Linked DNA regions of Homo sapiens. The protein of the gene in region 4 binds, or shares a complex with, the protein of the main gene of each other region. Links are inferred from orthologs where the notes say so. Each region holds a gene or a part of one and is shown on either strand. Other genes may lie near its edges.

Region 1 (6,937 bases), on a different chromosome or scaffold from region 4:
ACCCTATGCAAATGAAGTAGTGGCCGACTGCCAGTCTAATTGTGGGAGGGGACCAATCAAAATGAAGAGAGTAGGCCTGCTATCAGTCTGACTGGTTGTGAGAGGGGACCAATCAGACGTACTTTCATTTTTCAAATGCCATACAGAGAAAGGAGGGTTTGAAAAGGGAGTACTCTCTGATATTCAGTCAGCATGATTCGGCCTTAGATTCCCTGCCTCCGGACCCTATTCTCCTGCCTCTCAGCCTGGACAATGTAGTGAGACTCTGTCTCTAGAAAAACACAAGAAAGTTCCGGGCGCGGTGGCTCACGCCTGTAATCCCAGCACTTTGGGAGGCCGAGGAGGGCAGATCACGAGGTCAGGAGATCGAGACGATCCTGGCTAACACAGTGAAACCCCGTCTCTACTAAAAATACAAAAAATTAGCCAGGTGTGGTGGTGGGCGCCTGTAGTCCCAGCTACTCTGGAGGCTGAGGCAGGAGAATGGCGTGAACCCGGGAGGTAGAGCTTGCAGTGAGCCGAGATCACGCCACTGCACTCCAGCCTGGGAGAGAGAGCCAGACTCCATCTCAAAAAAAAAAAAAACAACACCAAAAAAAAAAAAAAAAAAAGGAAAAACGCAAGAAAGAAAGGAAAGTGGTAGTATATCCACATAATGGAAGACTAGACAACTATGAGAAAAAGAGGTAGATTTATGCTTAGTGACATGAAAGAAGCCCAAGACATATTAGAATTGAATAATTAGAAGAAAAAAACCCTAAACTAATCTAAAAATCTTTTTTTCTTTTTTTTTGAGACCGAGTCTCACTCTGTTGCCCAGGCTGGAGTGCAGTGGTGCGATGTCAGCACACTGCAATCTCCGCCTCCCAGGTTCAAGCGATTCTCCTGCCTCCGCCTCCGGAGTAGCTGGGATAACAAACGCCCGCCACCACGCCCGGCGAATTTTTGTATTTTCAGTAGAGACAGGGTTTCGCCATGTTGGCCAGGCTGGTGTTAAACTCCTGACCTCAGGTGATCCGCCCACCTTGGCCTCCCAGAGTGCTGAGATGATAGGTGTGAGCCAAAGCGCCTGGCTTTTTTTTTTTTTTAGACAGAGTCTCGATCTGTTGCCCAGGCTGGAGTGCAGTAGCGTGATCTCGGCTCACTGCAACCTCTGCCTCCCGGGTTCAAGTGATTCTCGTGTCTCAGCCTCCCAAGTAGCTGAAACTACAGGCACAAGCCACAACGCCTGGCTAATTTTTTTTCTTTTTTTGAGACGGAGTTTCACTCTTGTTGCCCAGGCTGGAGTGCAGTGGCGCGATCTCAGCTCACTGCAACCTAGGCCTCCTGTATTAAAGCGATTCTGCTGTCTCAGCCTCCCGAGTAGCTGGGATTACAGGTGCGAGCCACCACCCCAGCTAATTTTTTGTATGTAGAGACGGGGTTTCACCATATTGGCCAGACTGGTCTCAAACTCCTGACCTCAGGTGATCCACCCGCCTAGGCCTCCCAAAATGCTGGGATTACAGGCGTGAGCCACCACGCCCAGCCTAAATATTACTTTTATAATTGAAAGAGACTCTATCTAGACCAGCCGATGGGGGAAAAATATCAAGGATGTTGTGGAGTATCTAGCTCTCATTACACAGTGTAACTTCAGTCCTTGCCAACTAAACACGAAATAAAACCTTCAATAGCTCCCCACAGCTTTCAGGATAAAGTCCAGATCCTTCAGTGTGATCCAAGTCTGTTTACTGCTTCTACCATATTCCAACCCCCGACTGCACCTACTGTTCCAGCCAGCAGAACCACCTGCTTTCTTTGCACAGGCATTGAGCTCTTTCTTCTCCAAGCATTACCACAGGTGATTCCTGCCTCTGAAATCTCTGCCCCGAATATATGATATCATGTATATGCATATACTATACAATGATCCCTAGCACTTAGTAAAAGCTCTATAAATGTTGGGTATGATTATTATAACATGTCTCATTATATTGAATTACTTGTGTACTTAATCTTGTCACTGAACTGTACACCTCTTGAAGATAAAAGATAAGGACTTCTGTGCTTTACTGTCCCGGAGCACAGGGACAGATTAAGTGCTTAACAAAAGCATGGCAGGGCGCAGTGGCTCATGCCTATAATCCCAGCACTTTGGAAGGCCGAGGCGGGCGGATTGCTTGAGCCCAGGAGTTTGAGACTAGCCTGGGCAACATAGCAAAACCTTGTCTCTACAAAAAATACAAAAAAATTAACTTGGCATGGTGGCGCACACCTGTAGTCCCAGGTACCCAGGAGGCTGAGACGGAAGGACTGCTTGAGCCCAGGAGGTGGACGTTGCAGTGAGCTATGATTGCTCCACCGCACTCCATCCTGGGCGACAGAGGGAAACTCTATTTCAAAACAAAAATAAAAACAAAATAACAAAAGTGTATGTTCAAGGACACCTTCCTAACCCTTACATCACAACTTTTCTTCCCATCTAATGTGTCTTCCTCTTTCTTCTTGGCCAAGGAAACTCATATCCATTTCTTTTGACTACATCAAACCACATGGATTTTTCCCTTCTCCACACTCCAACAATACAATAACTTTCATTTGTATAGCACATCTCACTCTTCAGAGTGTTCATATTTATTATTTCTTTTTCCTCACAGCAACCCCAGTACCAAGGACACAGGCCAGGGGTGGGGAGGAGCAGGAAAATGTTTACTAAGGGTCAACTAAGTGCAAGGCGATTTACCCACATTATCTCTTTTAATCCCTTAACAATCCTTACAGGTGGACGTTTTAATAATCCCCATTTCACGACTGTGGAAATTAGACCTCAGTAAGATTTCATAACCTGCTGAAGGACACACAGGTATTAAGTAGTAGAGATGGGTTTTGAAGCTGGTGTCTCTGACTTTAAAGTCCCTACTGGTTCCATGACACCAAGTAAACAGATTTGCCTATTAACCACATTCCTCCAAGCTGCCCTGGGCAGGAGGTAATATAATACTTCCTGATTTCTTGCCCACCACATCTTCCACCAGACCACTTTGCCGTTATATAAAGTCTGTGGGCACAATTTAACAATGAATCACATGCCATCTTACCTGGTTACCTCATTGTTTCATTTACATTAGATTCCACAACAAGATTGGTAACATCCCCCTTTCCCCAGGCAGGAATTGTGTCATCTTAACCTCCCTGAGCCTCAGTATCCTCTTCTTTCAAATGTCTATCTTACAGGACTGTTGCAGAGATTAAATATCAGTTGTAAAGATGTTTGACATAATGTCTCGCACAAACTCTCCAGAAATATTTATTGCATCTCAACATCTTTTTCATCTCCTTCAACATGTCAGACAGGCCTGAGTGCCTGGGTTTGGCTATGCCAGTTCCTGTTGATTACTGATATAACAACGTTGGATCAGGAGTATTTTAGTGGGCAGATGTTGAATTTTCTGCCTTCCACCCACTAAAAGGTTTGCATCAAACCAGTCCAGGATAACTCATACTGGATCCCTGTCAGTTGATATAGTTAAGCTAATTCTACAGATAACAAAGAGTCTTGGGTACGTTTAGCTAGCAAATGCAGATCTGCCAAGACTCCAACCCAGTTCTTAAGGTATCTGGGTCTGGACTCCTTCCGCTCCACCAAGCCACCTTCCAAAGGTCTACCTGAAAATAACTAATGAGCAGAAACTATAGGGGGAAGGGGAAAAGACCCCTTATCTTGGTGTTTCTTGCTTTTCCTCGCAGCCCCGCCCTTTTTGCTTCGAAGGACGAGTTTTTCCTGAATTCACAATACTTTTGCATTGAAGATGTCCGGTCCCTTTAAGGTCTTGGGTGACGTAATGACTAGCCCCGCCCCCTCTCTTCTCGCTTCTCAGCCCTGCCCACTTCTTTTTGTCCTCAGCCAATTAGCGGCCCAACGCCCCTTCCGCGCCTCATCCGGGTTCCCGGGACGGGAAAGTGGCGTGGTAACCAGGCAACTACTGATCAATCCCCTCCCCGGCTGATTTGCGCATCAGGTAGTCGCCGCTCTACTCTCAACGGTGGCGAGCTGCAGTTGCCAAGTGCCCCGTCCCCGTTGCCATAACAGCAGTACACAACCCCTCCTTCCCCTCGCCCGCTTGCTAAACAGTCCTTCCCTCTCGGGACCAAGGGCCTCTCCAGAACTGCTTCTGATTGAGCAGAAACAGGGTCTGAGCCCCTTTGCTAAGGCGAATTGAGTGGGAGGGTTGGAGACTGCGCTTTAGGCTGGTGTACCAGAGGGCCCAAGGAAATTGGCCCAGTGGGGAGGGAAAAGTAGAAGAAATGAATGGAGCAGGGATTACGGATGGCGCAATGGGAGCTGAGAGGAGAGGAGGAGGAATTGGTAGGGAAGATTGGAGAGCATGGCTTAAGGGGGAGGTGGGAAGAATGGGGGAGAGGGAAGCCCAGGAAATAGGGACACCCGGCTGCTGGAGGAGAGCTGGAGTCACTGTGAAGGACAGGAAAGGCCTGGGGGTGTGGGTGACATCCTGAAGGGAGGGGGTCCTCAGTGGAAAGTGTGAAGTGGGAGTTGAGAATCAAAATGAGATGTTCACAGGGATAAGGAAAGAAGCCTAGAGTTGGTGGGTCAGAAGTCATGGGGGTGATGGGAGTGGCACGTGTCAATGACGATGAAGGAGCTGAAGGCTGGCAGAAGCTGATGAGACCTTCTTTTTCAGGAGGAGGACTGAGCTTATCTGACTCCAGAGCTTTCAGGAGGGAAGAAAGATGTCAGATGAAGATGATCTAGAAGACTCTGAGCCAGACCAGGATGATTCTGAGAAAGAAGAGGACGAGAAGGAGACAGAGGAGGGGGAGGACTACAGAAAAGAGGGGGAAGAGTTCCCTGAGGAAGTGAGAGCCTGGACAAGGAGGGGTCCTAGGGCTGAAGGAGGGGGTTGGGCAGGGGAGAGACACCTTACTCCACTTCTACCTGCAGTGGCTGCCCACCCCCCTCACGGAGGACATGATGAAGGAAGGGCTTTCTCTGCTCTGTAAGACAGGCAATGGGCTGGCTCATGCTTATGTCAAGCTGGAGGTTAAAGAGAGGTGCGTTTTGGGGGGACCAGATGAGGACTGTGAGACTGTAGGGCCCCTATCTCCTTTCCCACTGTCATTCCTGGGTGTTCTGGTTGAGAGTTTGACTCTTCTCATGCCTAGTGGAAAGGGAAGGACAGAATTTACTTTTCAGGAGCTCTGAGACTTCTCCTATCAAAGCTGACCTGGGGAATTGGAGATTGAGAGTATATGGGGGGATTCCTGCTGGATTCCCTTATTTGTCTTTCAGAGTATGGGTTCTCTGTCCTTCACAGACACAGGTCTCTCTGCCCACTGTTAAGAACCCACCTACCTTCTCTTACCCTTCTTCTCCCCTACCATCTGTTGCCCATTCTTCTCCCCATTATAAGCCATCTCCATATTGCCTTCTGCTTTAGCAACTCTGCCAGTCCTCACTGGGTGCTTAACCCTAAACCTGGTTTCTTCTCCCTCTTCCATCTCCTAGGGACCTGACAGACATCTACTTGCTGCGCTCCTACATCCATCTGCGCTATGTGGATATTTCTGAGAACCACCTGACAGACCTGTCTCCACTCAACTACCTCACCCACCTGCTCTGGCTCAAGGCTGATGGCAATCGGCTGCGAAGTGCCCAGATGAATGAACTGCCCTACCTGCAGATTGCTAGTTTTGCTTATAACCAGATTACTGACACTGAAGGCATCTCTCATCCTCGTCTTGAAACCCTGAATCTCAAAGGTGGGTCTTTAGGATGGGCTACACAAGATTCTTTCCTTCCTAGCCTGAGGCCAACAGAAGTGGGCAGTATGGTCCTTGGCTAGGGCACATGGCAGTCTGCATTCATTCATTCATTCAGATACGCAATATGATTCATTATGACAGTTCTACATGCTAACCATATAGGATCCAATAAGACAAGGAACGTCCCTATTCTCATATAGCTTATATTCTAATTGGGAGAGACAAACAAGTAACAACAAACACAGTAAGTACATTCATGTAGCATGTTAAAAGGAGACAAGTGCCTTGGAAAAAATAGATCAGAGTAAGAGGAATGGGGGACACAGGTGGCAATGTCAAATAGATTGGTTAGGACAACCATCACTGAGAAGATGACATTTGAGCAAAGAATTGAAGAAGGAGAGGGAATTAGACATGTCAGCTGCTTCATTCACTCTTCAAAGGCTTAGGTGGATATGTCCATCAGGACCTTGGACTACCTACCACACCACTTGCCTCAGGGCTCCAGAGGTATTAAGTCTGGAGCTGGCCTTCCTCAGTATCTACCCTGCTTTGCGAATGGTAGGATGATTTAGAGGCTCCCCAAATTCAGGCTCTAATGCTGAGCATTTGGAGTGGCCCTTTGAGCTCTTGAAACCCTCCTCCCCAGGGAACAGCATCCACATGGTGACAGGTCTGGACCCCGAGAAGTTGATCAGCCTGCACACAGTGGAGCTTCGGGGGAACCAGCTGGAAAGCACCCTGGGAATCAATCTTCCTAAGCTGAAGAACCTCTACCTGGTAGCTCACTGGGTCAGAGGGTGGTGCAGGGAAGAGGGCACTGTCCTGGGGGTCAGGATGCCTGCTTTCTAGTAGGCTCAGCTACTAACTTCATCATTATGATAATAACTGGTATTATTATCAAGACCATAGTTGGTTCCAGATGCTGTGGAGATACACAGCCACCTAGCAGGGCTGATAATATATAATGTGTGGATAATACAGAGATAATTTACCTTGATACAGGTAGTAGCAAAATGGACCATAATTGAGGTACAAACATCAGTCTGTGGAAATGTTTTAGGAAAACCCTCCTCTCAGACTGGGTTTTTCTTCAGCTCTTACACTACCACCACAACAATCATCAACATACGACTTCCGGGACCAAAGGTGTGGGGGTTTCTCCCCATACACC
Region 2 (7,019 bases), on a different chromosome or scaffold from region 4:
TAATAATAATAATAATAATAATAATAATAATGGCTGGACACAGTGGCTCACACCTGTAATCCTAGCACTTTGGGAGGCTGAGGCAGGTGGACCACTTGAGGTCAGGAGTTTGAGACCAGCCTGGCCAACTTGGTGAAACCACTTCTCTATTAAAAATACAAAAAATTAGCCAGGTGTAGTGGCGCATGCCTGTAATCCCAGCTACTGGGGAGGCTGAGACAGGAGAATTGCTTGAACCCAGGAGGCAGAGGTTGCAGTGAGCCGAGATCGTGCCATTGCACTCCAGCCTGGGTGACAGAGTGAGACTTCGTCTCAAAAAAATAAATAAAAAAAAGTAGGCCGGGCGCAGTGGCTCACACCTGTAATCCCAGCACTTTGGGAGGCTGAGGCGGGCGGATCACGAGTTCAGGAGATCAAGACCATCCTGGATAACATGGTGAAACCCCGTCTCTACTAAAAATACAAAAAAATAGCCGGGCGTGGTAGCAGGTGCCTGTAGTCCCAGCTACTCGGGAGGGTGAGGCAGGAGAATGGCGTGAACCTGGGAGGCGGAATTTGCAGTGAGCCGAGATCGCGCCACTGCACTCCAGCCTGGGCAACAGAGTGAGACTCCGTCTCAAAAAAAAAAAATAAAATAAATAAATAAATAAATAAATAAATAAGGCTGGGCACGGTGGCTCATGCCTGTAATCCCAGCACTTTGGGAGGACGAGGCAGGAGGATCTCCTGAGGTCGGAAGTTCAAGACCAGCCTGGCCAACAAGGTAAAACCCTGTCTCTACTAAAAAAAATTAGCCAGGCGTGGTGACGGGTACCTGTAATCCCAGCTACGCGGGAGGCTGAGGCAGAAGAATCGTTTGAACCTGGGAGGTGGAGGTTGCAGTGAACCAAGATTGAGTCATTGTACTCCAGCCTGAGCAACAAGAGCAAAACTCCATTTCAAAAATAAATAATAAATAAAAATAAATAGAGTGATTAAAAGAACTATGTAGGTTTCAAAAAGCAGTCCTTAACCCTTCTCCCCTGCAATAACTCTAAGTCACATGTATGACATGCTTGCTCATGGGATCACCTAGATATTGATCAAAAAAAAAAAGAGCTAAACTTATATAAGGAAGAAAAACATCATGATAGTTTATAATTGCCCAGGATTCATAATTGCAGCGTTCAAGCTGTGATTTCACCCCTTTCTCTCCCACTCAGGAAAGCAGGTGAATGAGAGTGATGTTATTGCAGGGATAATTTTGAAACCACTCAAATTTATATGAAAAACTAAACCTTTCTCAAACCTTGTTACTTTTTTTTTTTTTTTTTTTGAAACGGAGTCTCTCTCTGCCACCCAGGCTGGAGTGCAGTGGCAGGATCTCTGCTCACTGCAACCTCCACCTTCTAGGTTCAAGTGATTCTTCTGCCTCAGCCCCCTGAGTAGCTGGGACTACAGGTGTGTGCCACTGTGCCCGGCTAATTTTTTTATTTTTAGTAGAGACGGGGTTTCACCATGTTGGCCAGCCTGGTCTCGAACTCCTGATCTCAAGTGATCTGCCTGCCTCGGCCTCCCAAATTGCTGGGATTACAGGAGACTGAGATGGGCAGATCACTTGAGGCCAGGAGTTTGAGACCAGCATGGCCAACACGGCAAAAACCCGTCTCTACTAAAAATACAAAAATTAGCCAGGTGTGGTGGTGGGCACCTGTAGTTCCAGCTACTTGAACCTGGGAGGCGGACAATGCAGTGAGCCCAGATCGCGCCACTGCACTCCAGCCTAGGTGACAGAGTGAGACTCTATCTCTAAATAAATAAATAAAAATAACTGACTGTGACCTTTATAATTGAGAAAGGCTGGTTTGGAAGGCTGTGACAATTGTCTTCAAGTCTCTGAAGGTAGATATTCTCTCTGTAAGGTCCCCAGGGCACAGCCAGGACCCTTATGGATGGAGGGGCAGTTGCAGGACCACAGATCCAGCTTCCTGTCCGCAGTAAGAGGAGGCATTGCCTAAAAGTCAGAGCCATGCCACAGTGAGATGGACTGTCCTGCAGGATGCTTAGCATGTATCATTTATTTACTCACTCCTGCTCAGTGCCCAGCACTGGGGCTAGAACTGGATGCAGCAACTCCAGGACCTCCCAGTCTATTAGACAGAGGAGTCAATATACACCTGGAACACAGCACTGCTGAGGACAAGGATCAAAGGTGCTGGGGACTTGGGAAGGGGAGTCTAACCTAGAAAGGAGGCTAACAATCAGGGAAGGTGCCCTGGAGGATTTGGCACCTGAGTCGAAAGTTGAAGGATGAATTAAAAATTGCCCAGAGAAGCTGGGAGGAGCTGCAGAGGGGTGAGTCATGCAGGAGAGGTCAAGGGAGCAGCAAGAGAGAACAGTGAGTGAGGCCAGAGGGAGAAGCAGGGGCTTGGATCTTAGAATGAGACATCCGAGTTTTATGCTGGAGACAATGGGGAAACCAGTGAAGGGTTATGCCAGGAGAGGGACCTGGTCAGAAAGTATTTCAGAAGGCTGGGCGCTGTGGCTCATGCCTGTAATCCTAGCATTTTGGGAGGCTGTGGTGGGCGGATCACCTGAGGTCAGTAGTTCAAGACCAGCCTGGCCAACATGGTGAAACCCTGCCTCTACTAAAAATACAAAAATTAGCCAGGCGTGGTGGCTCGCGCCTGTAATCCCAGCTACTTGGGAGGCTGAGGCAGGAGAATCGCTTGAACCCAGGAAGCAGAGGTTGTAGTGAGTAGAGATTGTGCCATTGCACTCCAGCTTGGGCAACAAGAGAGAAACTCCATCTCAAAAAAAAAAAAAAAAAAAAGTATATGTCTGGGCTCAGTGAATTTATGATACCTTGGAGAGGAGATGGCAAGTAGGCACTTGGAGGTAGTCTTTGGCTCAGGGAAGTGGTCTGGTTCGGGATGGAGATTTAGCTGTGAGAGACAGAAGCCTGCCTCTGGAATAAGAAGAGAAGCTGTGGAACTCTGGGGATGGCGGCGAGGCGGGTGTGGGCACTAGAAAAGCGGGTGGAGGCAAGGTGGGGGGTCACGCCTGGGCTGAATGACAGGCGTCTGTGCTGGATGCTTCCCGTGCAGCCCTCCAGACCCACTCCCCACCCTTCCTGCCCTGCTGCGCTCCGGGAGGCTTCCTTGCCCTCAGCCTTCCACATGGAGCCGGCCCAGGGGAGCATCAGGCGGGGAGATGGGGAGGGAGAAGGGCAGGGCTGCGGCTTTATTCCCCAGTTCTCCTCCTATGGGGTCTCTTCAGTCAGCTGTGTCGCTTGACAGAAGGTCACAGCTCCGCTGAGGGCCCTGTCCACACACTCCAACAGACCCCTCGGGGTTCCTGGCCTGGGAAAACTGCACTCCGCTGTCCCTGGCAGTCTCCCTCCGCTCCTCCAGCACCTGGGCGAATGGTCCCTTTATTAAGCTCTCCACAAACCACCCAATCCGCTCCATCTCTCCCCCACCCCGGGTCACTGCCGATACATATTCTCAGACGCTGCGATGTCTGCCCTTCAGAAACAGGCCAGCTGGTACGACTTGTATCAACCCTCCCTCCTCCAGGTGCCGCAGACTCGCCCTTTAACCACCCGTTGAAGTCAAATGAGCCGTCTTCAGCAGAGATTTTCAGGCAAATAGCAGAGGACTGGGCAGGAACAGAAGTGGGGAAAAAATGAGCAGAGAGAGGGTGGGGGCGGCACAGGAACCGGACGGGCACTGAGCGCCTCAGCCATGCCCGCTGCACACCCAATTGTAGCTCATCCTCCCAAGATGCCTGTGTGTCTGCTCCGGTCCTCTAAGAAGCAAACAGGATTAGATGAGCAGGAAATGCACCTGGAGAAACCGTGAAGTATGAAGGGAAGGGAGCAGGGGCGCGCACAGTACAGCCTGACACCTGCGAGTGGAGACAGGGAGGGGAGGAAGGAGGGAGAGTGCAGCGAGGCCCGGGGAGCAGCTCAGCCAGCCTCTGGGGAGCCCTCGCGCAAAGCTTGCCCGTTGGAGGAGTCCTGTGTCTTGCAGGAATGGGCCAGCCCTGGTATCCCCACCACACGTAAGCATTGAGGGCAGCTCAGGGGCAGTTGCTTCAGCTCAGATGCCCAGGGGGGCAGCTGCTGGAACTGTCGGTCAACTGTGCTCCCCGCACCAGCTACTCTTCAAGAGCTGAGCAGTGCACCTCCGCAGCCACCACAGCTGGTGAAGTCACCCCGGATTTATAGCTAGGCAGGAGTGAACAGAGTGCCGGCTCTGAACTCTGGTCCGCCCTCAGAAACAGACCAGCTGATAAGACTTGTATTAATTCTCCCTCTTCCAGGTACCGCAGACTCGCCCTTAAGCACCACCCGTTGAAGTCAAATGAGCCGTCTTCAGCAGAGATTTTCAGGCAAATAGCAGAGGCCTACGACGTGCTGAGTGACCGTGAGTAGGTGTGGGGCTGAGCACCCCGCTTGATTAGGATCATTCCTTAAGTCTCTAGACTGTTGGGTTTTCTGAGGGGGCCCAATAACGAGGAAGCATCCTTCTTCCCTGCCTAGAATCTAGACACACAGAGAAGACAGAATACGGACCCGCCTTTCTCAGTAGAAGCAAGCTGAGGTGGAGGACGTGGGGTGTGGAGCCCAGGATTACACTGACTCGCTCATCCTGGCAGGCAGTGTGGGAGCTGGGGCACATTCCCCACGCATCCCTATGCCCTGCGGGGACGGGACCTTCCCCGGGAGAAACAGAGTAAGGGGCTTGCAGCTACGGGGAAGAAAGCTGAAGCTGGGCAGGCGTGCCCACCTGTCCCTCCCAGAGGTCCTTCCCAGTGGCTTAGTGTCCATTTCCCCAGGGCCAGCAACAGTAGGAAGAGGCAGAGAAAGGCCAGGAGTAATTAGGAAATCTGTCTCCTAGGGAAACCAGCAGAGTGAAGAAAGTGTGATCCCCGCCCCGGCACCCAGGGCCGTCCTGCGGGGCTTTCCCTGGGGGATTGTCCTGGAGACTAATCCTGGTTCCTGCGGAAGTGCAGCTAGAAGATCACTAAGGTTTCTACAGCCCCGAGTTTTCAGGACTTCAGGGTCCTTAGACTCTAGGATTTCGAAGTTTTAAAATTTGGAGGCTCTAGAATTCTTAGCTTCTAAAATGTCAAGGTTCTACGATTCCGTTTACCCCAGATAAGACAGTGGCTATGATGACTGAGTTAGGCCAAATCCCAGGGCCATTGCCTGAGCCTCAGTCTCTCAGTTATTCCCCCAGTCTCTCACCCTGCCCCCAGCAAACTCAAGGCTTTCCCGTCTCTCTTCTGGGCTACAGGAGCCATACCTAGGTCCTCCCAGAATGAAATGGAACGCCTGACTCCTAGGGTCTCATTCCAAAGACTGCCAGACAGCAGGCACTTTGGGATCAGGCTGCTTCTGCCCCTTCCCTTTCTCCATATCCGCCTGCTTCCCAGCCCCTCCACCTATCTCAGCCCCCAAAGTTGGACACCTCCTTAAGGTGATGCCCATCCACAGCCATGAAGAGAGGCATCTACGACAAGTTTGGAGAAGAGGGCCTGAAGGGTGGGATTCCTTTGGAGTTTGGATCCCAGACCCCATGGACAACTGGTTACGTCTTCCATGGCAAACCTGAAAAGGTGTTCCACGAGTTCTTTGGTGGAAACAACCCCTTCAGTGGTAAGAGGTCTTCCTCCCCCACCTTGCCTTATAGAGAAAGGACACTGCTATAAGTGATGTTTTCGTTGAGTAGTTTTGTTTTTATTTTTACTTTATTATTTTATTTTATTTACTTATTTTTTTTGGAGATGGAGACTCACTCTGTTTCCCAGGCTGGAGTGCAGTAGTGGGATCATGGCTTACTGCAACCTCTGCCTCCCGGGTTCAAATGATTCTCCTCCCTCAGCCTCCCAAGTAGCTGGGACTACAGGCGCACGCTGCCACACCCAGTTAATTTTTTTATATTTTTAGTAGAGACGAGGTTTCACCATGTTGCCCAGGCTGGTTTCGAACTCCTGAGCTCAGGCAATCTGCCTAAGGCCTTGGCCTCCCAAAGTGCTAGGATTACAGGCATGAGCCACCGTGCCCGGCCTATTTTTACTTTAATAAATATATATAAAACACATTGCAAAAGAAAAAGTAAAACAGAATTCATTGAAAAAGAAATACATTCCAGCCCTCCATTTTCTTTTTCTTTCTTTCTTTTTTATTTTTATTTTTTAGATGGAGTCCTGTTCTGTCACCCAGGCTGGAGTGCAGTGGCATGATCTCTGCTCACTGCAACCTCCGCCTCCGGGGTTCAAGCAGTTCTCCCTGCCTCAGCCTCCTGAGTAGCTGGGATTACAGGCACCCACCACCACACCCAGCTAATAATTTTATATTTTTTAGTAGAGACGTGGTTTCACCATGTCTGCCAGGCTGGTCTTGAACTCCTGACCTCAGCTGATCTGCCCACCTCTGCCTCCCAAAGTGCTGGGATTACAGGTGTGAGTCACCACGCCCAGCTAATTTTTGTATTTTTCATAGAGTAGAGACAGGGTTTCGCCATGTTGGCCAGGCTGGTCTTGAACTCCTGACCTCAGGTGATCTGCCCACCTCGGCCTCCCAAAGTGCTGGGATTACAGGCATGAGCCACCGTGTCTGGCCGAGCCCTCCATTTTCTTCCTCAGAAGCAGCTACTAGGGAAGCAGCTATTAGTAAACAGTTTATGTATCCTTCCAGAAACTTGCCATGCTTGTATGAGCTGTATTTATTTTTACAGAAGCCTTTTATTAAGGAAATAGGGCCAAATTTTACACAATGATTTTTTTTTTCACTTAATATATCTTGGAGATTATCTTATATGTTATACTATATATAGATCTACTTTATTCACTTACATGCAAATCTATATACTATGTACAGATCTGCATAAGATTTCATTGTACAGATGTCTATTAGGGATCCATTGCAGAAGCAAATACTGTTTTAGCCACGTGAAGCAGAAAGGGGTTCAAAACAGGGAATTAGGTGCTTTAAAAAATCACCGAGGCCAGGTGTGGTGGCTCACTCCTAT
Region 3 (8,019 bases), about 130 Mb from region 4:
TCTATCATCCAGGCTGGAGTGCAGTGGCACGATCTTGGCTCACTGCAACCTCTGCTTCCCGGTTTCAAACAATTCTCCTGCCTCAGCCTCCCATGTAACTGGGACTACAGATGCGTGCCACCACACCAAGCTAATTTTTGTATTTTTAGTAGAGATGGGGTTTCACCATGTTGGTCAGGTTGGTCTCGAACTCCTGACCTCAGGTGATTCATCAGCCTTGGCCTCCCAAACTCTGGGATTACAGGTGTGAGCCACCATGCCCAGCCTGATTAAGCCTCTTAAAGTGAAGTTTAGGCCAGGTGCGGTGGCTTACACTGGTAATCCCAGCACTTTGGGAGGCCCAAGTGGATAGATCACCTGAGGTCAGGAGTTCGAGACTAGCCTGGCCAACATGGTGAAACCCCATCTCTACTAAAAATACAAAAATTAGCCGGGTGTGGTGGCAAGTGCCTGTAATCCCAGTTACTTGGGAGGCTGAGGCAGGAGAATCGCTTGAACCCGGGAGGCAGAGGTTGCCGTGAGCCGAGATCTCGCCATTGCACTCCAGCCTGGGCAACAAGAGTGAAACTCCGTCTCAAAAATAAATAAATAAATAAACAAAGTGAAGCTTAACATAACTATCTCTAAGGTATTACTAAATATAGTTTAATGTTCCAAGAAGATGTTGCTAAATCTTGGAATTTTTTGTACAGCACAAACTCTTATAAATCCTTTTATTTAAGCTTGAATAATGGTTAAAACCAGAGGCTATATTTCTTTAGCAAGAACTTTGAAAGAGTCTTTCAGAAACCATTGATAAAAGCATTTCTCAGAAGGCAAGCACTGGATGGACAAGTAGCTCAGTTGGTGGGTAAAATAACAGCCCCAAAGGTATCCAGGTCCATGTTCCAGGAACCTGGGAATGTTACTTTACATGGTAACAGGGATTTTGTGGACTGATAAGGATCTCGGGTGGGAAAACTGCCCTGGACTATCTGGATGGCCACTGAATGCAATCACCAGTGTCCTTGGAAGAAGGAGGCAGAGGGAGATTTGAAGATGCTGGCCTTGAAAATGGAGGAAGGGGACATGAGCCAAGGCGTCCAAGAAATGCAGCTCTAGAAGCCAGAAAAGGCAAGGAAACGAGCTGGGTTTTCCTGAGAACCACTGGAAAGAGCAAAGCCCTGTCAACACCTTGATTTTAGCCTAGTGAAACTAATTTGGACTTCTGGCCTCCAGAACTGCAAGAATGTATGTCTGTGTTTTTTTTTTTTTTGAGACGGAGTCTCGCTCTGTCGCCCGGGCCGGACTGCGGACTGCAGTGGCGCAATCTCGGCTCACTGCAAGCTCCGCTTCCCGGGTTCACGCCATTCTCCTGCCTCAGCCTCCCGAGTAGCTGGGACTACAGGCGCCCGCCACCGCGCCCGGCTAATTTTTTGTATTTTTAGTAGAGACGGGGTTTCACCTTGTTAGCCAGGATGGTCTCGATCTCCTGACCTCATGATCCACCCGCCTCGGCCTCCCAAAGTGCTGGGATTACAGGCGTGAGCCACCGCGCCCGGCCCAAATGTATGTCTGTGTTTTAAGCTGTCAAGTTTTGTGGTGATTTGTTACAGCAGCCAAACGAAACTAATTCACTTTGGTTATAGAGTTTAAAGCCAGCAAAATTTGGCTGTTTTTTTTCTTTTTAAATTAGTTTTCTTATTAAAAAAAATACAGATGGGGTCTTGCTGTGTTACCCAGGCTGGTCTCAAACTCTTGGGCTCAAGTGATCCTCCCAGCTTGGCCTCCCAAAGTGCTGGGATTACAGGCATGAACCACCAAGCCCAGCCAAAATTTGAAATGTTGATGACTAAAATATTTAAATTAAATTTACACCTGTGCTGACTCTTGTCATCATAAAAGTGAGTTTTTGTTTTACATCTGTTTATTGAAAAGGGGCAAAGAGCTCTCCTGTAAAACCAAGAGGATTTCTTTTAATGCCTCTAAGATCTGTTGACTTGTAACTTTGAGATTATGAATGTCTGTTCCTGGCAAGTGTTGGAATGTTTGTGGCAAAAAATAAACTGTGAAGCTTCATTTGCTGGACAGTTTACCCTGAGCACTCTAGGGATGATGACCTCAGTATGACCACGGTCGTTCCGGTTCTAATAAATTTAACCAGCTCTGGGTATACATAGCTCTGAGAGGACTCTCTGCAGATGAGGAACTTAGCTAAAATATTCCTCTTTGTAAAGTCATTTCACAAAGTGACTGCAACCGTGTAATTTTTTTAACATAATGTAAACACTTTTTTGCCCAATGCAATTACTTTGTTAAGTTTTAGTCTATCTTCATCATAAACACTTTTAAACAATTGAGTTGCCATTACGTTGTAGGTAAGTGAGCATTTTGCAATGATTTCGGGTCTCATAGTCGATAAATCGAAATGGTTCCTAGATAAAACACTCAAGTATAGATGTCACCAATGCTAAGGGGAAAGTTTTGCCTGATACTCTTAAGGACGCTGAGTGCCGCGTAAGGCCCCTGGTCCGGGAGGAGGGCTCTCTGGGCTCGTCTGGCTTGGGCATGTAGACCGGACAGCTCCCCGGGCCAAGGGCGCTTACCCCGCGGACCACCGCAGCACGTCGGCCGGCTGGGTGCGGATGGCAGCCTTGGTGAATTGCTTCAGGATGTCCGGCAGCTCCGGGGGAATGTGGATCTGCTGAGCGCAGAACATGGTGTCGGGAAGCGGCATCGCTCTCCGCAGAAGGGACCAGGCTGGTGAATCGCGGCGCGCTGCGAGGAAGAAGGGCGGCTGTCGGCTACGACGCGGTGGACCCGCTAGCAGCGCGGGGCTTGCGGCCAGGGCCGCCTCCCATCCCGTTCCCGAGGTTGGGGCCGGATTCGCGGGGCTCTTACCCGCTCCTCCGCGGGCTTCGGGAGAAATTCGGACCAACTGCCACTCCGACAACACCCTAGACCCTGCAGTTCCCTAGCGCCAGCCGCCACTACGGACGCGCTCGGTATCCAGGCACCCGGGACGCGAGCAGGCCCCGCCCCTGGAGCCGCGCACGCGCACGCGGCCCTGAGCGAGGCGGGGCTGCTCCCGGGCTGGACAAGGAGGTGCTGGCGTAGTCCGACTAGCAGCAGCCGCTGCTCCCCGGTGGTTCAGAGCCGCGCGAGCTGAGCGTTTCGCCTACAAAAGCATCTTCGGATCGGTTTCCCACCGCCGAATGTGAGCGGCGAACTCACGAAGGACTCCCTCTTCCCCTTGCTCTGGCTGCGTGAGGCTGAGGCTAGGGGACTCGGGCCTGCTAGGAGGGAAGCGGGTTAAGTGAAGGGGCTGATCGCCTGGGCGGCACGGGCCCCGCTGCGGGACCCGCCTGCGCCTGGGGCCGCTCCTCCAAACTTCTCGGGCTTCGAACTTCGCACATGCTGTTCCCTGGCCTAAGCCATCCCGTAGTGAACCTGAGTTCTTAATTTAAAAAGCCGCTTAGACAGTGGGCAGTTTCCAGCTAAAACACTATTGTATTTGTTTTCTTACGATAGGTTGCTTGAGCCAATGTGACTGGCTCTAGGAGGAAATAAATCACATCTGTCAAAAGAGCCTCGAGTCGAAGGATAGGAGAAACCTCGAATTTGGTGGGTGCTGACCAAGGCACCATGCAAGGGGTTAACTTTGCTTTAGGGGGTGACCTGGCTGGCTGCTGCAGTTGCCGTTAACAGCCACCGAATGGATGAGACTCCAGATCCACCTCCTCCTGCGTTCCTCAAAACAGGAAGATGGAGAACTACGGAGAGCTACTTCCCAGAGGGGCCGATGGCAAGCACTCCCTTCAAGGAAACTGGGGAAGTTGCCCGATTTTGATCGTTTCCATCCAAACACCCACCAGACAATATATACATACACATTTCTAAATTAACAGCATTGGCAAAAACTGAAAATACTTGTATTTAAAGTTGATGACAGTATGAAAACAAGAAATCCGTCCGGGCGCGGTGGGTCACGCCTGTAACCCCAGCACTGATCACAAGGTCAGGAGTTCGAGACTAGCCTGGCTAACATGGTGAAACCCCCTTCTCTACAAAAATTGGCTGGGCGTAGTGGCGCGTGCCTGTATTCCCAGCTACTTGGGAGGCTGAGGCAGGAGAATAGCTTGAGCCCGGGAGGTGGAGGTTGCCGTGAGCAGAAATGGCACCACTGCACTCCAGCCTGGGCGACAGAGTAAGACTCTGTCCCCGCCCCCCTCCACCCAAAAAAAGAAAAAAAAAAAAAGGAATCTTCTATGTTGTTGAGAGGGATGTTAATTAGTACCTTTATGGGGCAGTAATGTAACACTAAAATTTTTCGATGATCGTGCAATATTACTTCTGGGAACTTACCCTACAGAAATACTATAAAAAGTAATATGGACAAAAATCTTCACCATATAAATTGGGTAAATGTCTTTTGGAAAACAAATCATGGCCTGGCCACACAATGGTATGAAAAGATGCCCGTGTAAAGTGAAAAAAAGCATCTTGTCAAACAATCTGCATAGTATGACACCTTTATTGTGATAAATGATTCTGTGAAGGTATGTCTGGAAGCACACAACTAAACTATTAACAGCAGTTACCTCTGGGAAATAGGACAGGGATTTCAGGTTTTATTTTGGCCATAGACACATTATTTTGATTCTAAATTCATCATTTATTTACTAACTTAGCATTACTATTGAGTACCAAATATTTGCCAGGGAATTGTTCTGGGAATACAGTAATAATTCAGTTTAAAAAAATAAAATCTTTGGAGCTTACATTCAAGTGGGAAACAACATGCAAATATAAACAACAAAGGTAAACCATATAGTATGTTTAAAAGTACAAAAGAGAGCCGGGAGTACAAAATACAGCAGGGAGATGAGACAGGAATGCCCCAGTAGCTGCAGCTTTAGATAAGCCTCAGTGAGAATGACACTTCAGGAAAGAAATGAAGAGGCTAAAGAGCCTGAAGAACATTTGGGTATTGCAAATAGTAAGTGCAAAGGCACGAAGGCCTGACCTGTTTTGGAGGCAGGGAGGACGGCAGGAGCAGGGTGAACACAGAGGTGATGGGGTCAGAGAAGGGAGAAAAGGGGTGCTTCATGTTTTGCCCAGCATTGAAGGCTATTGTGGACTTTTGAGTGCCATGGTCGTCTATTGGAGAGTTCTGAGGGTTGGTGTGATCTGACTTGGATCTCAAGAAGAACATTCTGGATTCAATGTTGAAAACAAATGGAAAAGGAGAGAGAGCAGGGGCAGAGGCAGCAAGCTCAGGAGAAACAGCGATTAAGTAAACAATGGGTTTACTTGTTCAGTTTTGAGACTTCTTTATGTAATCTAGATGCAACTCATTTATCAGAAATGTTTTGCAAATATTTTTCTGCCACTCTACAGCTTGTCTTTTTGTTCTCCTTATGGTACCTTTCAAAGAGAAGTTCTCAATTTTGATAAAGTACAATTTATCGATTTTTCCTTCATGGATTGTGCTTTTGGTGTTGGATTTAAGAAATCTTTTCCTAACCCAAGGCTGAACACGTTTTCCTTGTTGTCTTCTAGAAATTATACAGTTTTGGGGAACTATAATCCATTTGGACTTTAATCTTTGCCAGTGTTAAGATATGGATCAATTTGTTTTTAATTTTGCATCTGATGCCCAATTATTCCAGCATCATTTTTTCAAGACCTTTGCACCTCTGTCAAAAACCAGTTGTCCACATACATGTTGGGTTATTTCTGGACTCTATTCTGTTCCATTAGACCAATGCACAGCCAGCAGAAGGGACTGATCCCAAAAACATATGAGTGAATGAAGAGGAGTACTGGGTATGAAGCTTCTCATCTTTAGGTGTATCCTAAAGAAGAGTTACTGAACAAACACAGAGAAGCAGAAAAACTCCGGCACTGTTACATATGTGAAGAAAAGTTTCAAAATGATAACTAAACAATGTAAAATGAGGCAAAAAGGGGCCTCTACGTAGTGTTTACGTATGAGTGGTCTTAGAGAAGTGTGTGACTAAGTAGAACTAGATTGCAGAAGGCTGAAAGAGTAATGGCAGGGGGACCTACATATACCAAACAGTCACTAAGGAAGTGGCTAGGCCATCTCTCCCGGGTGAACCTTTCTCTGTGTTCCCCATGGCATTTTATTCATACCTCTGTAATACAATCTTTTGCTCATGCTTCTGTTCCATTCTGAGTTCCTTGAAGGGAGACATCATACCTCATTCAACTACAGTACTAAATACAGTGCTAGAAACAAAACAGACACCAAAATAAAAACATGGAGGAGGAGGGGAACGTTACCCTCTCAGCCCCTTGATACGTTAGTTCTCCTTATCACTACATGTTTGCAACAAGAGTAGCTATGAACTGTGGAGCGGAAGGGGGAAATTAATGGCCAGTTTCTGAACTTGACCATGCAATTTCCTTTGCTGAAAAATTTCAGCTTCACAGATTAAAGATGTCTATGGTTCGAATAGCATTTCCTCTATCACCCCTGCATTTAAAGTAATTAAAAATGCACTTGTTTGGGGGAAAACAATCATGGAAAAAATTCTGAACCTATAAACAAAGAAAAATTAGAAATAGTCTGAAGCAAAAGGATCTCCTCAGGGCACTCAGAAGGAAAAAAACATCACGCAAGTCTTTCCTTTTTATCTGGGACATATGGTCAGGTATGTACAATGGATTTGATTGGTTTTACTCTAAGTATTCAGCTAAAAGACAACCTTAGTGAAACTGACTTTCTGATCTCGTAGCAGACATGCAGAAGTGGGCAGTAGCTTGCTATTGCACAAAATGTGGGGCCTTACTCTTCCCAGTGAGGACGGTCTACAGTTCAAGTTAGGGAGACAGAAGGGGAGGGATGTGTCCTCTGCAACTATGCATTTAAATGTATACATAAAAGGGAGTCGCCACAGTCACATTTAACTGGAGTTGTTTTTCCTTCCTATTATAACATCTGGATTATCTATGCTGGCTAATAATGCATATTTCTGCAATCTTAAAGCAATCTTGCAATAACACAAAAACAAACAAAAAAACTAGACTACAATTAACATTCACTTTATTCAGTTTTGTCCTCTCAACTTAGAAGGCAACAAATGACCACATTAAAAAGGGAGCATTTCAGAATATATATACATAAAATTGGTCTGGGTACCCTAAGGTGTTTGCGTTGATAGAAAATTGACACCCCAAACTAAGTGTTCTACTTAGCTTCTACAATAGTTATTCCTAGACCTTAGATTAGTCATTACATTTTTATTTAAGGTACTATGTTACTTTCATGACTACAAAATGAGGCACTCGTACAAAACAGGAATGAAAACATACATATACTGTCTTGTCTTTATGTCGTATTAATGCCAAAGATATTGTCAGGGATTATTTTAAAGAAGCCCTTACTCATGATGGCTATTTTTAAAAATGGCACAGGACAGTAACAGGCTGAAAAGAAAACACCTGGTTGAGGGGACAAATTAAGTAAATACAAGACAGCTTAACCAAGGAAGTCAGCGAATCTCCACAAATGAGGCTTTTAATAATACTTTACTGGTAAGACATTTTAGTTGGGTTTTTTTTTGATGGCTGAATAACATCCTAAAGAAGTATTTTAAATATAATCTTTTAATTTTACAATGTAGAAAACTTCTCACAGTAAGTAGAGAGCTTAGAGTACTCAACCCTGAAAATGAAAATAAGTAGCTAGCTTGGAAAGTTTTAAAAAGCGCCAGTGTTCTTATGGCACTACATTCTCCTGCACGTGTGCGTGTGTTCACGCACATTCGCAAACGCAATACAATGTAGAACTGTCCAGTGTTTGTTTTGTTTTAAAAAGTCATCAATTCAACCTAAATTCAAGAATTACACTTTAATAGTGGCATTTTGCCAATACAGAAATGACGTATCTTGGATCAAATCATTTTAAGGAAAGTTATTCTATATTACTTGAATAAGGGAAAGAAAATACACAAGACAAGAATCCACAATAATAGCAGTTACATTAAATGTTGAAATAAAAATTACTTTTTG
Region 4 (7,962 bases):
CATCTTTTCATATATTTAAAAAATGTTTTTCCTTTTCTGTGACCATCCATCTGTTCTGCCCATTTTTCTACTAATTTATTTTTATCTTTTTCTAGGAGCTCTTTATGTATTAAGAAGACAAGCCCTTTGTCTATGAGTTGCAAATCTTTTTCCCAAGTTTGTTGTGTTTTGACTTTGCTTATGGTGTTTATTTCATTGTGCAGAAATTTTTTGTTTATATAATCTTTTTTTAAATTAAAAAAATTTTTTTTTTCGAGAGTTTCGCTCTTGTTGCCCAGGCTGGAGCACAATGGCACGATCTCGGCTCACGGCAACCTCCGCCTCCCATGTTCAAGCGATTCTCCTGCCTCAGCCTGCTGAGTAGCTGGGATTACAGGCATGCGCCCCCACGCCTGGCTAATTTTGTATTTTTTAGTAGAGATGGGGTTTCTCCATGTTGGTCAGGCTGGTCTCAAACTCCTGACCTCAGGTGATCAACTCACCTTGGCCTCCCAAAGTTTTGGGATTACAGGCATGAGCCACCGTGCCTGGCCTTGTTGATATAATCTTATCAATCTTTTCTTCCATGGCTCCTAGACCTTAAGTCATAACAAAAAAAAAAAAGGCTGTCCTACTCCAACAACAAAATAAATCCATTATCTTTTCTTCCTGAACTTACATGGTTTAATTTTTTTAATATGTAGATCTCAGGTTTATTTGGAGTTTATCCTGGTATATAATACTTGATCCAAATTTTTCAGTGGCTACCAGTTTTCCTAACATTTACTAAAAAGTTATTTACCTGAGTCTTTAATCATATTAAATACTTCCTAACACTTTCTTGTGCCATCCCTACTCTCGGACTCCACCTGTCCTTTGAAGCTCAACTGAAATTCCGTATCTTTTCTGAAGATTGATATTTTCTCTTTATTTATTTATTTATTTTTTGAGACAGATCTCCCTCTATTGCCCAGGCTGGAGTACAATGGCGTAGTCTTGGCTTACTGCAACCTCTGCCTCCTGAGTTCAAGCGATTCTCCTGCCTCAGCTTCCCAAGTAGCTGGGACTACAGGTGCACGCCACCACGCCCAGCTAATTTTTGTATTTTTCATAGAGATGGGGTTTCACCACATTGGCCAGGCTGGTCTCAAACTCCTGACCTTATGATCCACCCATCTCGGCCTCCCAAAGTGCTGGGATTACAGGCGTGAGCCACCGTACCCGCCATTTTCTCTTTATTTTTAAAAATACTGACTGAATAAGCAATATGACACTGTATAAATGGGAGAAAATAAAAAATTGGAAGTTCGAATGAGAATACTGTAAAAGAGGCGGGGTGCAGTGGCTCACACCTGTAATCCCAGCACTTTGGGAGGCCGAGGCGGGTGGATCACGAGGTCAGGAGTTCAAGACCACCCTGGCCAACATGGTAAAACCCCGTCTCTACTAAAAATACAAACATTAGCTGGACATGGTGGTGCATGCCTGTAATCCCAGCTACTCAGGAGGCTGAGGCAGGAGAATTGCTTGAACCGGGACCTGGAAGGCAGAGGTTGCAGTGAGCCGAGATCGTACCACTGCACTCCAGTCTGGGCTACAGAGGGAGACTCTGTCTCAAAAAAAAGAAAAAAAAACTATAAAAGAGGAAGATTAAAAATATTCAATTCTATTTGATTTATCCTTAACAATGCTATTTATATTCACTTTCAAACCCCTAGAATGACAATGTTTACTAATTGCAGAACATAAGGCTTAAAACATTAAATGTTATGCCATAACTGAAAAAAGTACCAATAGCCTAAAATTCCATCAATAGAAGATCAAGTAAATAAATTGTAGTTCTAATACACAGGGAAATATTACACAGAAATTAGGAAGAGTGAGATCAATTCAGATGCAATGATCTGGAATCCTATCTGAGGGACTCTGTAAAGGGGTCAAGGGAAAGGGACTGTTCTGTTTTATGGGGGGAAAATGTTTATAAATGCATAGAAAACTCCTGGAAGAACAGAAAGTGTTAAGTGGTTGCCTCTCTCTGGAGCCTGGGACTTGGGGTAAAAGAGGACAGGTGAAGGAAAAGTCCATTTTATTTCTCATTTTACATCCTTTTAAAAACTATCACATATAACTTTTATACTTAGAAGAATAAACTTAAATTTAATGCTGAACACTAAGGGTTTAAATGGGTAGGCACATTTACATAAGCATTTTTTTTTTAAGGGCAGAGAGGAAAAAAGCATGAATCATCATACCCAGAAGTTACCTGAACAATGGTGAATCCGGATCTAAGAATAATATCTTGTATCTCCTCCTCTTTGTCAACAATATCTGGTTTGATAATGGCCAGAGTTTTTTCTACATATATCTGAGGTGGAGGCATTGATATCTCCATTATGGCTTTTCAGGGCACAAATTAAGAGTTTCTTAACAGGTATCAACTGCAATGACATGCATTTCCCCCCACCCCCATCGCAAATTCAATGTAATTATGATTAAGAATAGCAATAGTAGGTACTTGATTTTATTAACTGATGAAGGTAGAAACTGCCATGTTTTTCTATATACAGGGTCTCAATAATAGGATTCCTACTATGTCCAAATCGAGCCCCGGCTTTTCGTATACGATGTCACCAAGGCAGGAAGGACTATGGGCTCACATAACCAGAGGCCAAGGGGCGACCCGAAGGCCTGGAACCAGCAACAGCCCCAGGCAGCAGAGGGCGGTGGGGCGGGTGGTGGGGGCTCGAGGGGGCGGTAGAGCGGGTGGTGGGGGCTCGAGGGGACGGTGGCTGGTGGGCAACCACACACCATTACAGCGGCGGGTGAGCGGCCTCGGCCAGCTGCCTCTGTGAAGCGACCCTGTCCCGCAGGGACCTCTCTGTGCATAGGGTCAGGCTAATTGAAAAGCAGGGCCTCTAGGTCCGCGGGGACTTTCCGGGTTGCACCTGCAAATTCTGAATTTGACCCTCTCTAAGTACTCACCTCAGCGGCCGTCCTCATATGGTACAACTTGTTGCTAGGAGACCTGAAGCCCCAGCGTGGGGACGGTGGCTGCAGAGAGCCAATCCCAGCAAGGAACCTTGCAGCTTCTGGCCAGTTCGTTTTAACCAAAGGGAGCCAGCCAGTCACTTTTATTCTCCTTGTGAATCTTAGAGCACTAGATGTTTTCTGACATTTTACTCATAATTTATCTTATTTCATCCTTCTTCCCGTTTGAAGGATGCTTCAATTATCCCTACTCTATAAATGATAAGAACCCCTCCCCCAACCATTCCTTTCCAGGCGGTATATGTAAATGACCCGTGTCAGATACCTTCGTTTCACCAGATGATGCTGTGCCCTCTATGCCCAGCTTATCTAGTCATTAAAAAGCAATATTCCTATTGTGTAAATACATTTATTTATAGAGTAAAAGGCTTAGAAAAGATCTAATGGAATTGTCTTTAAATCAAGCCGATGGAACAAAGATGTGGGCAACATTTATGGCATAAATCCAAACCTCAGCTTCCCCTTTTTTTCTTTATATTATGTCCACATGCATCTTTGACTCGTTGGTTGTGAGTTAAGGTATTATTCTTGTTGGAAAAGAAAATGAGGACATGGCAAAGAAGTACCAGGATCCTCTCTAGGTCAGAGTTCCGGGAGAGATTCAAACTCTAGAAAAAGTCAGGATAGCAGCTCCAGGTTAGAAAACAGGTTTTCCATCATCCACTGGGTTAGCTGGTTCTCCTTCCAGACTACTTGAGCCTTTTCTTTTGTCTAACCAGATATTCAGTACCTAAAGGGTTAAGGAACACATAGCAAGCTATTATGAACCTTAAACACTAAAGTATTGCAAGTTTATTTTTTTGGCAAATAGACTCAACTATACTTTTTTCTTTAAAGTATGATGCTACCCAGAAAAGAAACCCACAAATGTCTTCTAGCTACTATATCTTATCCCCTAAAGATGGGAAAGTGTGAACGTACATTAATAACAACAGATGAAGCAACCAAAAAATACACAGTGACTCCAGCCTCTTTGGAGTTTAGCCCTTGACTTGAGGCTCTGGAAGCGGGAATTCCCATTACTTGTCTATCCTCAGCTCTCTTGAGAGCTCTTCACTGCTGCCTGCATTCCTAGACTACTTCACTATCAGAGCTGGACTTACTGAGGCTCAGGGTTTTCCAAACCAGCAGGCACATTATCAATCCTTCAGGGCCTTAATCACCTTTAAAAATAAACTCTGAGAACACAGTCACCTCGAAATCACCTTTATTCTCATAGGCGTTCTGAAATCAAGATTCCAGAGGCTACAGGTATCTGCATACAGTACCTGAATCTGCTCCAGGACTTCTTGCCGCATCTCCACAGCCATATGGTATACATGATGATCAGAGTCATTGTACATTACAGCATTTTGGAACATCAGCATCAGGTCTCGCAGGAATTGGGCCATGGTGCGAATCCGACCCTTAGAGAGATTTCTCTTCAGGCTAGTTAAGTCCATGGGTCTGCAGGTGGCCAAGAAAAAACAAAGAAAATCAAACCTTCATGTGGAACATATGATAACCTAACACGTTCTCTTGAAGAACTAACCAGTTCTTAATGAAAACAGTAGCAAAGATAACAACCCTCATCAGATAATAAAATAGCAACAGCAGTTAATATTTGCCTGTTTACAATGGGCCAAACACTGTATTTCTATACTAACTCACTTAATCCTCTCAATAAACCTGTAAGGTAGGTATCATTAATATCTCATTTTTTTTTTTTTTGAGTCGGAGTTTCACTCTTGTTGCCCAGGCCGGAGTGCAATGGAGCAATCTCAGCTCACTGCAACTTCCACCTTCCAGGTTCAAGCAATTCCCCTGTCTCAGCCTCCAGAATAGCTGGGATTACAGGCGTGCGCCATCATGCCCAGCTAATTTTTGTATTTTTAGTAGAGATAGGGTTTCACCATGTTGGTCAGGCTAGTCTCGAACTCCTAGCCTCAGGGGATCCACCTTCCTTGGCCTCCCAAAGTACTGGGATTACAAGTGTGAGCCACCGCCCCCGGCCTTATTATCTCCATTTCACAGATGAAGAAATTGAAATCTAAAGAGGTTAAGTACTCACTGAAAGGCACACAGCCTGAATTCCAATTCAGAGGCAGCCTGACTCCAGAGCCCACAGGTCAAGCCACTATATTCTACTATCAGAGGAGGAGTGCTGGCCCCAGGTATCAAAGTTGTAAAGAGCACCAATCATCAGTTTATCACACAGTAGTTATTTGCTGTTTACAATGTATAGTCATATATTATTTCATCTACTTCTCTTACTGCACAAATAAAAAGCTAAGAATAATTTTTTTCTCCTTTCATGGAGATGAAAAAAGGATCAAGTGAATATTAAGACAATATTAATGAGACACAGAAAGTAGATATATAAGAGAAGGCACAGCAGTGTAGAAAGAAGACTGAACTGCAGGTAAGAATCTGGGGCTTAGTTCTAGCTCTGCTATTAACTGTTGGTTGATCACGAGCAAGTCATGACCAAGCACCTCTGAGCTTTAGTTTCCTCATTCCTAAAGAAGTTTGTCTCTGCTGTTTGAATGATGGTATCATTGTCTCTGCTGTTTGAATGATGGTATCCCCTCCAAAATTCATGTTGAAACTTAATCCCAAGTGCAACAGTATTAAGAGGTGGAGCCTTTGGGAGGTAATTAATTCATGAGTGCTCTGCCTTCATGAATGGGATTAGCATCCTTATAAAAGGGCTCCATATCGAAGAGAGTGCCCTCTTATCCTTCTGTCCCTTCTGCCATGTGAGGATACAGCATTCGTCCCCTCTGCAGAATACAACAACAAGGCATCATCTTAGAAGCAGAAGCAGAGAGTAACCCACCTCACACACCAAAACTACCAATGCCTTGATCTTGCACTTCCCAGCCTCCAGAACCAAAACAAAGAAACATAGATTTCTATTATTTATAAATTATCCAGCCTGTGGTATTGTGCTATAGCAGCACAGACTAGTGACTCTCCAAAGGTCCTATCATGATCTTTTACATTCTATTACCATACAGGTTTATGACAGCATTTTAGATGACCTATGCTATAAAAACCCAAAATAGGCCGAGCACAGTGGTTCAAGCCTGTAATCCCAGCACTTTGGGAGGCCGAGGCAGGCGGATCACGAGGTCAAGAGATTGAGACCATCCTGGCCAACATAGTGAAACCCTGTCTCTACTAAAAATACAAAAATTAGCTGGGCGTGGTGACGTGTGCCTGTGGTTCCAGCTACTCAGGAGGCTGAGGCAGGAGAATCACTTGAACCCGGGAGGCGGAGGTTGCAGTGAGCCGAGATCTCATCACTGCACTCCAGCCTGGTGACAGAGCAAGACTGTCTCAAAAAAAAAAAAAAAAAAAAATCCAAAATAGGCTAGGATTACCTGCCTGTAATCCCAGCATTTTGGAAGGCTGAGGTGGGAGGATTGCTTGAGACTACGAGCTTAAGACCAACCTGGGCAATCTAGTGAGACCCCATATCTACAAAAAATTTAAAAATTCCTCCTCAGTGATATTCTGAAGAAAAATAAAGTTATTAATAACATTTCAAACAAAGAAAATATTTTATTATAATAAAAATATCAGGCCAGGCACAGTGGCTCACACCTGTAATCCCAGCACTTTGGGAGGCTGAGGTGGGTGAACTGCATGAGCCCAGGAGTCTGAGACAAGCCTGGGCACCATGGTGAAACTCTATCTCTATAAAAAATACAAAAATTAGCCGGGCATGGTGGCACACACCTCTAGACCCAGTTATTAGGGAGGCTGAGGTGGAAGGATTGCTTGAACCTGGGCAGTTGAGGCTCAGTTATCCAAGAAATGTGCCACTGCACTCCAGCCTGAGCAACAGAGTGAGACCTGTCTCAAAAAATAATAGTAAGTAAAAATTTAAAAAATAATAAATTTAAAAATTAGCTAAGTGCAGTGGCACATGCCTGTAGTCCCAGCTACTCCGGAGGCTGAAGTGGGAAGATTGCTTGAGCCCAGGAGGTCAAGGCTGCAGTGAACCATGATTGCACCACTGCACTCCAGCAACAGAGTGAGACCCTGTCTCAAAAAAATTTTTTTAAATAAAAAATAAAAATAAAATCCCAAAATACTGAGAGGTGAAGCTGGCTGGGCTTCTGGGTTGGGTGGGACTTGGAGAACTTTTCTGTCTAGCTAAAGGATTGTAAACACACCAATCAGTGCTCTGTATCTAGCTAAAGGTTTGTAAACACACCAATCAGCACTCTGTAAAAACGCACCAATCAGCGCTCTGTGTCTAGCTAAACATTTGTAAATGCACCAATCAGCGCTCTGTGTCTAGCTAAAGCTTTGTAAATGCACCAATCAGCACTCTGTAAAAACGCACCAAAAAAGGTTTGTAAACGCACCAATCAGCACTCTATAAAAATGGACCAATCAGCACTCTGTAAAATGGACCAATCAGTACTATGTAAAATGGACAAATCAGCAGGATGTGGAGGAGGCCAAATAAGGGAATAAAAGCTGGCCCCTCAAGGCAGCAGTGGCAACCCGCTGGAGTCCCCTTCCACACTGTGGAGGCTTTGTTCTTTCACTCCGCAATAAATCTTGCTGCTCCTCACTCTTTGGGTCCGCACTACCTTTATGAACTGTAACACTCACCGTGAAGGTCAGCCGCTTCGCTCCTGAAGCCAGCAAGACCACGAACCCAACAAGAGGAATAAACAACTCCGGATGTACCACCTTTAAGAGCTGTAACACTCACCGCCAAGGTCTGCAGCTTCACTCCTGAAGCCAGCGAGACCACCAACCCACTGGGAGGAACGAACAACTCCAGAGGCGCCACCTTTAAGAGCTGTAACACTCGCTGTGAAGGTCTGCAGCTTCACTCCTGAACTCAGCGAGACCACAAACCCACCGGGAGGAAGAAACTCCGGACACATCTGAACATCCGAAGGAACAAACTCTGGACACACCATCTTTAAG

The links.
Region 1: NME5 (region 4) and LRRC23 share a complex: the UniProt entries of both Homo sapiens proteins name them as parts of the axonemal radial spoke complex.
Region 2: the proteins of NME5 (region 4) and DNAJB13 are in contact, whole or in part, in a cryo-EM structure (PDB 8WZB), measured with the Mus musculus proteins. The link is inferred for Homo sapiens from one-to-one orthologs. Residues at the interface, in NP_542368.2 of Mus musculus: Glu52, His53, Asn56, Met193, Lys199, Pro200, Lys201, Leu202, Cys203, His204, Phe205; in NP_705755.2 of Mus musculus: Thr156, Lys157, Lys158, Thr181, Ile182, Asp183, Arg185, Trp188, Arg189, Gly191, Thr192, Arg193, Ile194, Thr195, Phe196, Glu197, Pro281.
Region 3: NME5 (region 4) and ROPN1L share a complex: the UniProt entries of both Homo sapiens proteins name them as parts of the axonemal radial spoke complex.

What each region holds. Positions count from the first base shown.
Region 1 is NC_000012.12:6,900,903-6,907,839, forward strand, and holds the start of LRRC23 (leucine-rich repeat-containing protein 23), read left to right. Parts: upstream 1-3,919; 5' UTR 3,920-4,173; intron 4,174-4,682; 5' UTR 4,683-4,731; coding exon 4,732-4,857; intron 4,858-4,942; coding exon 4,943-5,052; intron 5,053-5,506; coding exon 5,507-5,760; intron 5,761-6,412; coding exon 6,413-6,543; intron 6,544-6,937. UniProt on the Homo sapiens protein: Essential for sperm motility and male fertility. Plays an important role in the proper assembly of the third radial spoke (RS3) head and the bridge structure between RS2 and RS3 in the sperm flagella.
Region 2 is NC_000011.10:73,954,012-73,961,030, forward strand, and holds part of DNAJB13 (dnaJ homolog subfamily B member 13), read left to right. Parts: intron 1-1,901; exon of another isoform or gene 1,902-2,021; coding exon of another isoform or gene 2,022-2,191; intron 2,192-3,557; exon of another isoform or gene 3,558-3,843; intron 3,844-4,305; coding exon 4,306-4,409; exon of another isoform or gene 4,410-4,413; intron 4,414-4,525; exon of another isoform or gene 4,526-4,718; intron 4,719-4,883; exon of another isoform or gene 4,884-5,014; intron 5,015-5,482; coding exon 5,483-5,644; intron 5,645-7,019. UniProt on the Homo sapiens protein: Functions as part of axonemal radial spoke complexes that play an important part in the motility of sperm and cilia.
Region 3 is NC_000005.10:10,436,865-10,444,883, reverse strand, and holds the start of ROPN1L (ropporin-1-like protein), read right to left. Parts: upstream 3,006-8,019; 5' UTR 2,717-3,005; coding exon 2,586-2,716; intron 1-2,585. UniProt on the Homo sapiens protein: Functions as part of axonemal radial spoke complexes that play an important part in the motility of sperm and cilia. Important for male fertility.
Region 4 is NC_000005.10:138,136,410-138,144,371, forward strand, and holds the start of NME5 (nucleoside diphosphate kinase homolog 5), read right to left. Parts: upstream 3,020-7,962; 5' UTR 2,980-3,019; coding exon of another isoform or gene 2,962-2,979; exon of another isoform or gene 2,495-2,961; intron 2,377-2,494; 5' UTR 2,372-2,376; coding exon 2,243-2,371; intron 1-2,242. Other genes in the region: BRD8 (bromodomain-containing protein 8), read right to left, coding at 3,665-3,757, 4,296-4,473. UniProt on the Homo sapiens protein: Functions as part of axonemal radial spoke complexes that play an important part in the motility of sperm and cilia. Does not seem to have nucleoside diphosphate kinase (NDPK) activity.